Linked DNA regions of Homo sapiens. The protein of the gene in region 1 interacts with the protein of each later gene in a pairwise test. Each region holds a gene or a part of one and is shown in the gene's direction. Other genes may lie near its edges. The genes, in order: ZNF662 and HUNK.

Region 1 (3,822 bases):
TATATATTATATATTATATATATTAATATATATATAATATTTTTGTATATTATATATTATATGTTATAATATATATTTTTATATATTTAATATATATTTATATATTATATATTTGTATATTTAATATATAAATACATATATTTATATATTTAATATAAATATATATATAAATACATATTTTATATATAAATATATTTATATAAAATACAAATATTTTTCTATAAAATATATATTTATATATTTTATATATATATAAATATATATATATATTTTTTATATATATAAATATATATATATTTTATATATATAAATATATATATATATTTTTTATATATATAAATATATATATATATATTTTTTGAGACACAGTCTCACTCTGTCGCCCAGGCTGGAGAGCAGTGACACAGTCTCGGCTCACTGCAACCTCTGCCTCCCGGGTTCAAGCGATTCTCCTGCCTCAGCCTCCTGAGGAGCTGTGACCACAGGTGTGTGCCACCATGCTTGGCTAATTTTTTTTGTATTTTTAATGGAGATGGGGTTTCACCATGTTGGCCAGGCTAGTCTTGAACTCCTGACCTCAGGTGATCCACCCACCTCGGCCTCCCAAAGTGCTGGGAATACAGGTGTGAGCCACCACGCCCAGCCTATCCTTATTATTCTGTACCATCAAATTTCTGCTTATCTATGTTACCAATCTTTTCACCCACCTTTATTCTCTCCCTACCACTTCCATGTCTGCTCTTTTCCTGATGGGCCTCACTCTTCTGACTGAGTCAGCCTTATTTGTATCTTGACCCTGGCAGGATATCCATTTCTAAAGCCTGCTGGGATTTCCCATCCTGAGCAGGTGGAAGAGCCATTAAACCTGAAACTGCAAGGAGAGGGTCCAAGCCTGATTTGTCCGGGTAAGTGAGAGGGAAATGAGCATTCTTCTCTCAGTCACATCTTTTCCTATCTTTCTTTTATAAGATGTAAAAGTCCATTTTGCCATTCATGTTCTAAACAAATATGGGGACCAGATCCTTAAATCAACCAATTAAGAGAAAACTTAAACCCTAAGCTTCCAACTTTCATTAGGACAAGCTCAATTAATTAAATTAATTAAATTAGGATGGGTCTTTTGCGTTAGACTTAAACTGAACAGATGGCCTGCCCCATCTAGCTGCTATGATCACCCAATATTTTTAATGTAGATGCTGTATTTTACTCATTGTGTTAGTTGTTAGAGATAAAAAAAATCAAGTCATATATGGCCCTTATCCTGGAAGGACTCACAGTCTCATGGGACATGATACATAAATGTATAATTACAGAAAAATGATGAAACTGTAACAGAATGTGAATAAGACACTATGAGAACAAAGAGGAGGGAGTCTTTTCCGAGTTCTGCCTGGAGTAGTTTGAGAAAGCACTTCCCATGGTTTCATGGTGAACTTGGTGCTTGGATTGAAAGAGAAGACTATACTTCCTTTTAGTGTTGAAAAGTATGAGGAAGCTCATTCTTGCTACTGTCTGCTGCATGTGACAAGCCCAGGTTCTCAGGTATACCACTAAGGATTCCTTATTTCTGAACAGGTCCTCTGCCCTAAGTCCTGGCCTGTTCTTCTCATGGTATAAACTGTACTCAGCTACCTAGGAGGAATTCTGACTTTGTTTTCCTTAGATTCAATTCACCTGTTTTCTGAGAGCCTACCCTGGTCCTTGGTTTGGTGCCAGGAATCATAGCCCGCAGGGATTCTATCTAGTTGCTGTCTTTACTTTTGGTTTCTTTCTGTGTATTAGCCTTGTTTTTGCCATTTTCAGCTGGGACAGGGCCACTGAGACATGGGTGGCACTTGGAGAGAAGTGGACGTATTAATACCACTTGGTGACCTTAGTCGCTGTGTCATGGATAATGATGACATTTGAAGCTCCAATTTCTTTTTTCAGAGGGTGTGTTGAAGAGGAAGAAAGAAGATTTTATTCTGAAGGAGGAAATTATTGAGGAAGCACAGGACCTCATGGTCCTATCAAGTGGACCCCAGTGGTGTGGATCCCAGGAATTATGGTTTGGGAAAACCTGTGAAGAGAAAAGCAGGTTAGGGAGATGGCCTGGTTACCTCAATGGGGGACGTATGGAAAGTTCTACAAATGATATTATAGAAGTGATTGTCAAGGATGAGATGATCTCAGTAGAAGAGAGTTCAGGGAATACTGATGTCAATAACCTCCTTGGTATACATCACAAAATTCTAAATGAGCAAATATTCTATATATGTGAGGAATGCGGCAAGTGTTTTGATCAAAATGAGGACTTTGATCAACACCAGAAAACTCATAATGGAGAGAAGGTCTATGGATGTAAGGAATGTGGGAAGGCTTTCAGTTTTCGATCACATTGCATTGCACATCAGAGAATTCACAGTGGGGTGAAACCCTATGAATGTCAAGAATGTGCTAAGGCCTTTGTTTGGAAGTCAAACCTGATTCGTCACCAGAGAATACATACTGGAGAGAAACCCTTTGAATGTAAGGAATGTGGGAAGGGCTTTAGTCAGAACACAAGCCTTACGCAACATCAACGGATCCACACTGGTGAGAAACCATACACATGTAAGGAATGTGGGAAAAGCTTTACTCGAAACCCAGCCCTTCTTCGACATCAGAGAATGCACACTGGGGAGAAGCCTTACGAATGTAAGGACTGTGGGAAGGGCTTCATGTGGAACTCAGATCTTTCTCAGCACCAGAGGGTCCACACTGGGGACAAGCCTCATGAATGTACTGACTGTGGGAAAAGCTTCTTTTGCAAGGCACATCTTATTCGACATCAAAGAATCCATACTGGGGAAAGACCCTATAAATGTAATGACTGTGGGAAGGCCTTCAGTCAGAATTCTGTCTTAATTAAGCACCAGAGGCGCCATGCTAGAGACAAACCCTATAACTGTCAGATCTCTCACCTTCTTGAACATTAGAGAGTGCATAATGGTGATACTTGTTTATAATTCTTATGCTGCAGGAACCCTAGAGACAAAATGAGATGACCATTCACAATTTGCTGTAACCCTTAACTTAAATAGCCAGTATTATCTTGCCCTTTTGAACATTTACCATGTACTCTAGCAAGACTGGTCCCTCTGTTCTATGATGTTTTAACAAGGCATCATTTAGTTGGGCAGCTACTCTGTATCAGGTGCTAACCACTTTACATACATTAATTTGCATAACAATCCTATTAAGGTAGGTGCTCTTCTCCCCATTTTACAAATGAGAAATCTGAGTTGAAAGAGGTTATAAAACTCATTCAGGGTTGCTCAGTTAGTAAGTTATAGAGTTGAAATTGGAGCCAGGCCTATCTGACTGCAGAGTTTACTGTTCTTTACTTAATTGTACATATTTATGTCTCTGCCCATTTTTATTTGCTTATTTTCCTGTGCTTTTAGTTTCCCTTCATCACTCAGATCTAGCTCCTTCAACTAAGAAGATCTCTCTTCCTCTTCTACTTGTAATCAGTACCACCCAAGTTAGTATTTAATTATGTGCCATCTTATATTTTTCTAATAGTCTCATGTCTTTTAATCTTAACCCCAGCTAAATGACTCTGAGGACCAACAGTACATTTCTTTTATGTTTTTCAAATCCTGAAACATTAATCTTTGACTAGATATAACATGCTCATGATAAAAAAGAATTGAAATAGTTGAAAAGGGTGTTCAGTGAAAAGTAAATTTCCTTGTCATTCCTATCTCTTGAGTTCTCCCCAGAGGCAATCACTGCTACTGGTTGTGTATCTCTGTAGATACTCTTTGTATACAAGTGTTTATTAGTATTGCTTTTCAT
Region 2 (3,822 bases), on another chromosome or scaffold:
ATAAAATAGTCAAATTCATTCCTATCAGATGGATTATATTCTAGTACAACGAAGGCAAGATTTAAACCAAAAGAATGGCCACTGCCAAGCGTTTTGGCTCACATCTATAGTCCCAGCATTTTGGGAAGCAGAGACAGGAGGGTTGCTTGAGGCAGGAGTTCAAAACCAGCCTGGATAACATAACGAGACCCCATCTCTACAAGAAATCTTTTTTTAAAAAATAGCTGGGCATGGTGATGCACACCTGTAGTCCCAGCTACTCAGGAGGCTGAGGTGGGAGGATCACTTGAGCCCAGGAGCTCGAGGTTGCAGTGAGATATGATGACACCACTGCACCCCAGCCTGGGTGATAGCACAAGACCCTGCCTCAAAAAAAAAAAAAAAAAAAAAAAGCTTCATACACACGTTCATACACACGAGTACTAAGTACGCAAGTAAGTGCTCACACGATTAGGGTAGAAAGGGCTGGAAGCCCATCAGGACCGCTCAGGGCTCTCTGGATTTGTTGTATATGTTGTGTTGGCACCTCCTTGGCTTGACTGCCCCAAATAGAACCTGATGTGAAGGTGGAAGCAGTTATGTTTCCAGTTGCCTTTGCAAAGCCGTTATTGCAGGCACAATCTTTAAATGTAGACAGTGGGTTTCCAGAAGTCCTGCTCTGCTTCACCTTGGTTTGTTGGGCTTGTTCCAGAAGAATTGACCTCCTAGGAATGCCCTGCCCTTGCTGGAATGCCTTGGAAGAGCACAGTGAAAGGGAACTGGGGTCCATTGAAGGCCTCTCGCTGCCCAGGCAGAGGGAGATGGGCTTCCTGGAGCATTGGCTGGGCCACAGCTCCTCCCTCATTCAACACACAGTTGAGAGCATAGAGTATTGAAAAGGTGGAGTTTCTCTAATCAGTTTGGATGACTTTTCAAAGAGGAATCCCATTGTGTCTTCTAGTATGTGTCTAAGTGCATATGTTTGCTTCTGATTTGTAGGATAAAAAGCCCAAAGAACAAGAAAAAAGAGGGGATTTTCTTCATCGACCATTCTCCAAGAAGTTGGACAAGAACCTGCCCTCGCACAAACAGCCCTCAGGCTCGCTTATGACACAGATTCAGAACACCAAAGCCCTCCTGAAGGACCGGAAGGCCTCCAAGTCCAGCTTCCCCGACAAAGGTGGGTCAGCTCTGGGGACTCTCTCAGGCCACTCGTGTTGGGCTGTGTGTCCGCTGTGTAGCCCTCACAGGGGATGGTCGAATGGGCCCTAGAGCAGAGATGATTCCTGTGCCCACAGAAAAGCAGGATTAATGGACCTGAGGTTGCCTGAGCACAGTCCAGGACCAAGCTGTGTGGCATTAGCCATCTGTGCAGGAAGAATTTGAGAAAACAGAGATGGGGTGCAAAGTATTACGGAAACAGAAATTGGGGTGGATGATATTGTCAGAACAGAGGTTGGGAGGCACAGTATTGCAGGAGCAGAGATCAGGGTGTGTGGTACTGCAGGGGCAGAGATGAGGCTGTAAGGAATTGTGGGAGTAGAGATGGGGTGCAGAGCAGAGACCGGGTATCTCCCTGAGTTCAAATCCCAGCTCTACTGCCTGCAGAGGTCCAAGTTCCTTTAGTGCTGAGGATCTTCACTGGATTATTTGTAAGGCCTCCCACCTGTTGGAGCTGTTGGGTAGATGAGATGAGATGCATATATAAGCTCCCTCACCTGAGTCAGAATCCAGCCCATCACAGATAACTGACAAATATGTTTCCCTCCTCTGGGACGAGTGCTAAAAGATGCAAAAGGCAGACCTTACTGGGCACAGGCTTAACACATGGTAGAAACGCCAAGAGGGGACACAGGAGCTGAGGGCGTCCTGAAGCAGAGCCATGAAGTAGAGGAGAGGTTCTTATTACTGAGGGGGATGAGACACTTCTTGGAGTTCAATCTCCTAAAATATGAAAGACCAGGTTCAGAGAGGGCCGTGGCTGTCTGAGATACACTCAGGTGTAGCGGGCAGTTAGTCCCTGAGCGGGACTTGAACCTGCCTCCTGTCCTTCTATCTCCCATGCTGCTCCCGGAGAGAAGCCACTGTACCCACTTTGCCCAAAGCAACCTGCTTTCCCTGGGGCAGAGCATGCAGTGGATCGGGGAGGGGCAGCAGTGTCCATGTGGCAGCTGGAACACTGGAGACCTTGGCCATTAATGAAGTTTTACTTCTTTCTGCTGATGCATCTCAGGTGCCTGCGCCGGCCTTTCATTTCGGTGCCTGTGTGTTTATTTCTGCAAGGCAGGGAGGCTTCCCAGTGCCCTCAGCCACTCCCAAAATCGATCCCAGTGGGCAGGAGCTTGCTCCTGCAGCTGGGCCTCCACAGAGCCTATAAAACGTTATGGGAGAAGAAAGAAGCTAAGACAGAGCTTATTCCGCATGAACTTGGCTTTATTTCCCTCATCCCCAAATCTGTAGGGGGTTTCCCCTTTCTTTTCTGGCCCAGTTTCCAAACCTGGATTCTAGTCTATGCCAACCAGAGACAGAAACCATGGGGATCTGGCAGGTTGCCTTAACTGTATGGATGGATGATATTCTTCCCCCGTTCAGAATTGGATGAGGTTCCATCCAGATCAAAAGTCACGAGGGAGCCTTAAAAGGGAAGGAAATCCTGGCACATGCTCCAACACAGATGAACCTGGAGGACATTATGCTAAGTGAATTACGCCAGTCCCTAAAGGCGGATACTGTGTGATTCCACTTATATGAGGTCCCTAGAGTGGTTAGATTCATAGAGACAGGCAGTAAAATGGTGGTTGCTGGGGGTTTCAGAGAATGGGGATGTATATGGGGTGTTAGATTTGCAACAGGAAGACAGTTCTGGAGATTGATTCTACAACAGTGTGAATATACTTATTATTGCTGAACTGTACACTTAAAAATGGTTAAGATGATAACATTTCTGCTACGTGTTTTTTACCACAATAAATAAATTTTTTAAATGTCACAAGGGAAACATGTCTTCCACTGTGGGCTGTCCAAGGACCAGATTGGCAGGAATTCAGTCAAGGGACCTTGGTGTGCTTCTGGGAGTTTTATGGATGTGCTGTTGAGTGCATGTACCTTTTTTATTCCAAGATCCTTTGGCAAGGTCCAGAATTTTTTTTTCTTTTTTTTCTTTTTTTGAGACAGAGTCTCACTCTGTCACCCAGGCTGCAGTGCAGTAGTGCCATCACGGCTCACTGCAGCCTCCACTTCCCAGGCTCAGGTGATCCTCCCACCTCAGCCTCCCAAGTAGTTAGGACCACAGGTGCATGCCACCACACCCTGCTAATTTTTTAAAATTTTTTTAGAGACGGGGTCTTGCCATATTGCTCACGCTGGTCTTGAATTCCTGGGCTCAAGCAGTCCTCCCACCTTGGCCTCCCAAAGTGCTGGGATCACAGGCGTGAGCCACCGCTGCCTAGGGTCCAGAATTTTAAGCAACCAAAAGCAGGGACGATGTTAGGCTGGGGCCATGAGGCAAATTGGAATCCAGGAGACGTCCTGTCGCCAGCCCTCTGTCCCTCCATCCTAGGAAGACTGCCCGACCTCTGTGGGGAGAGTGACATGCTGCTGGTGACTTTTGCAAAGTAGCCAAGGCTGTTTGCCGGTTGGTTTCTTCTGACCTTGGCGGGAACTGTCTCAGTTAAGCTGGAGGTCACAGCAGGCAGGAGAAGGGCCGTGAGCACTGTCCGGACGTCCTCATGATTGTTTATGCTTTCTTGGTGTGCAGATTCCTTTGGCTGCCGCAATATTTTCCGCAAAACCTCAGATTCCAATTGTGTGGCTTCTTCTTCCATGGAGTTCATCCCCGTGCCA

Evidence for each region.
Region 2: the proteins of ZNF662 (region 1) and HUNK interact in a two-hybrid assay, tested with the Homo sapiens proteins (one large-scale study listed by BioGRID and IntAct).

The regions. Positions count from the first base shown.
Region 1 is NC_000003.12:42,912,398-42,916,219, forward strand, and holds part of ZNF662 (zinc finger protein 662), read left to right. Parts: intron 1-803; coding exon 804-905; intron 906-1,929; coding exon 1,930-2,957; 3' UTR 2,958-3,822. UniProt on the Homo sapiens protein: May be involved in transcriptional regulation.
Region 2 is NC_000021.9:31,994,790-31,998,611, forward strand, and holds part of HUNK (hormonally up-regulated neu tumor-associated kinase), read left to right. Parts: intron 1-978; coding exon 979-1,159; intron 1,160-3,736; coding exon 3,737-3,822.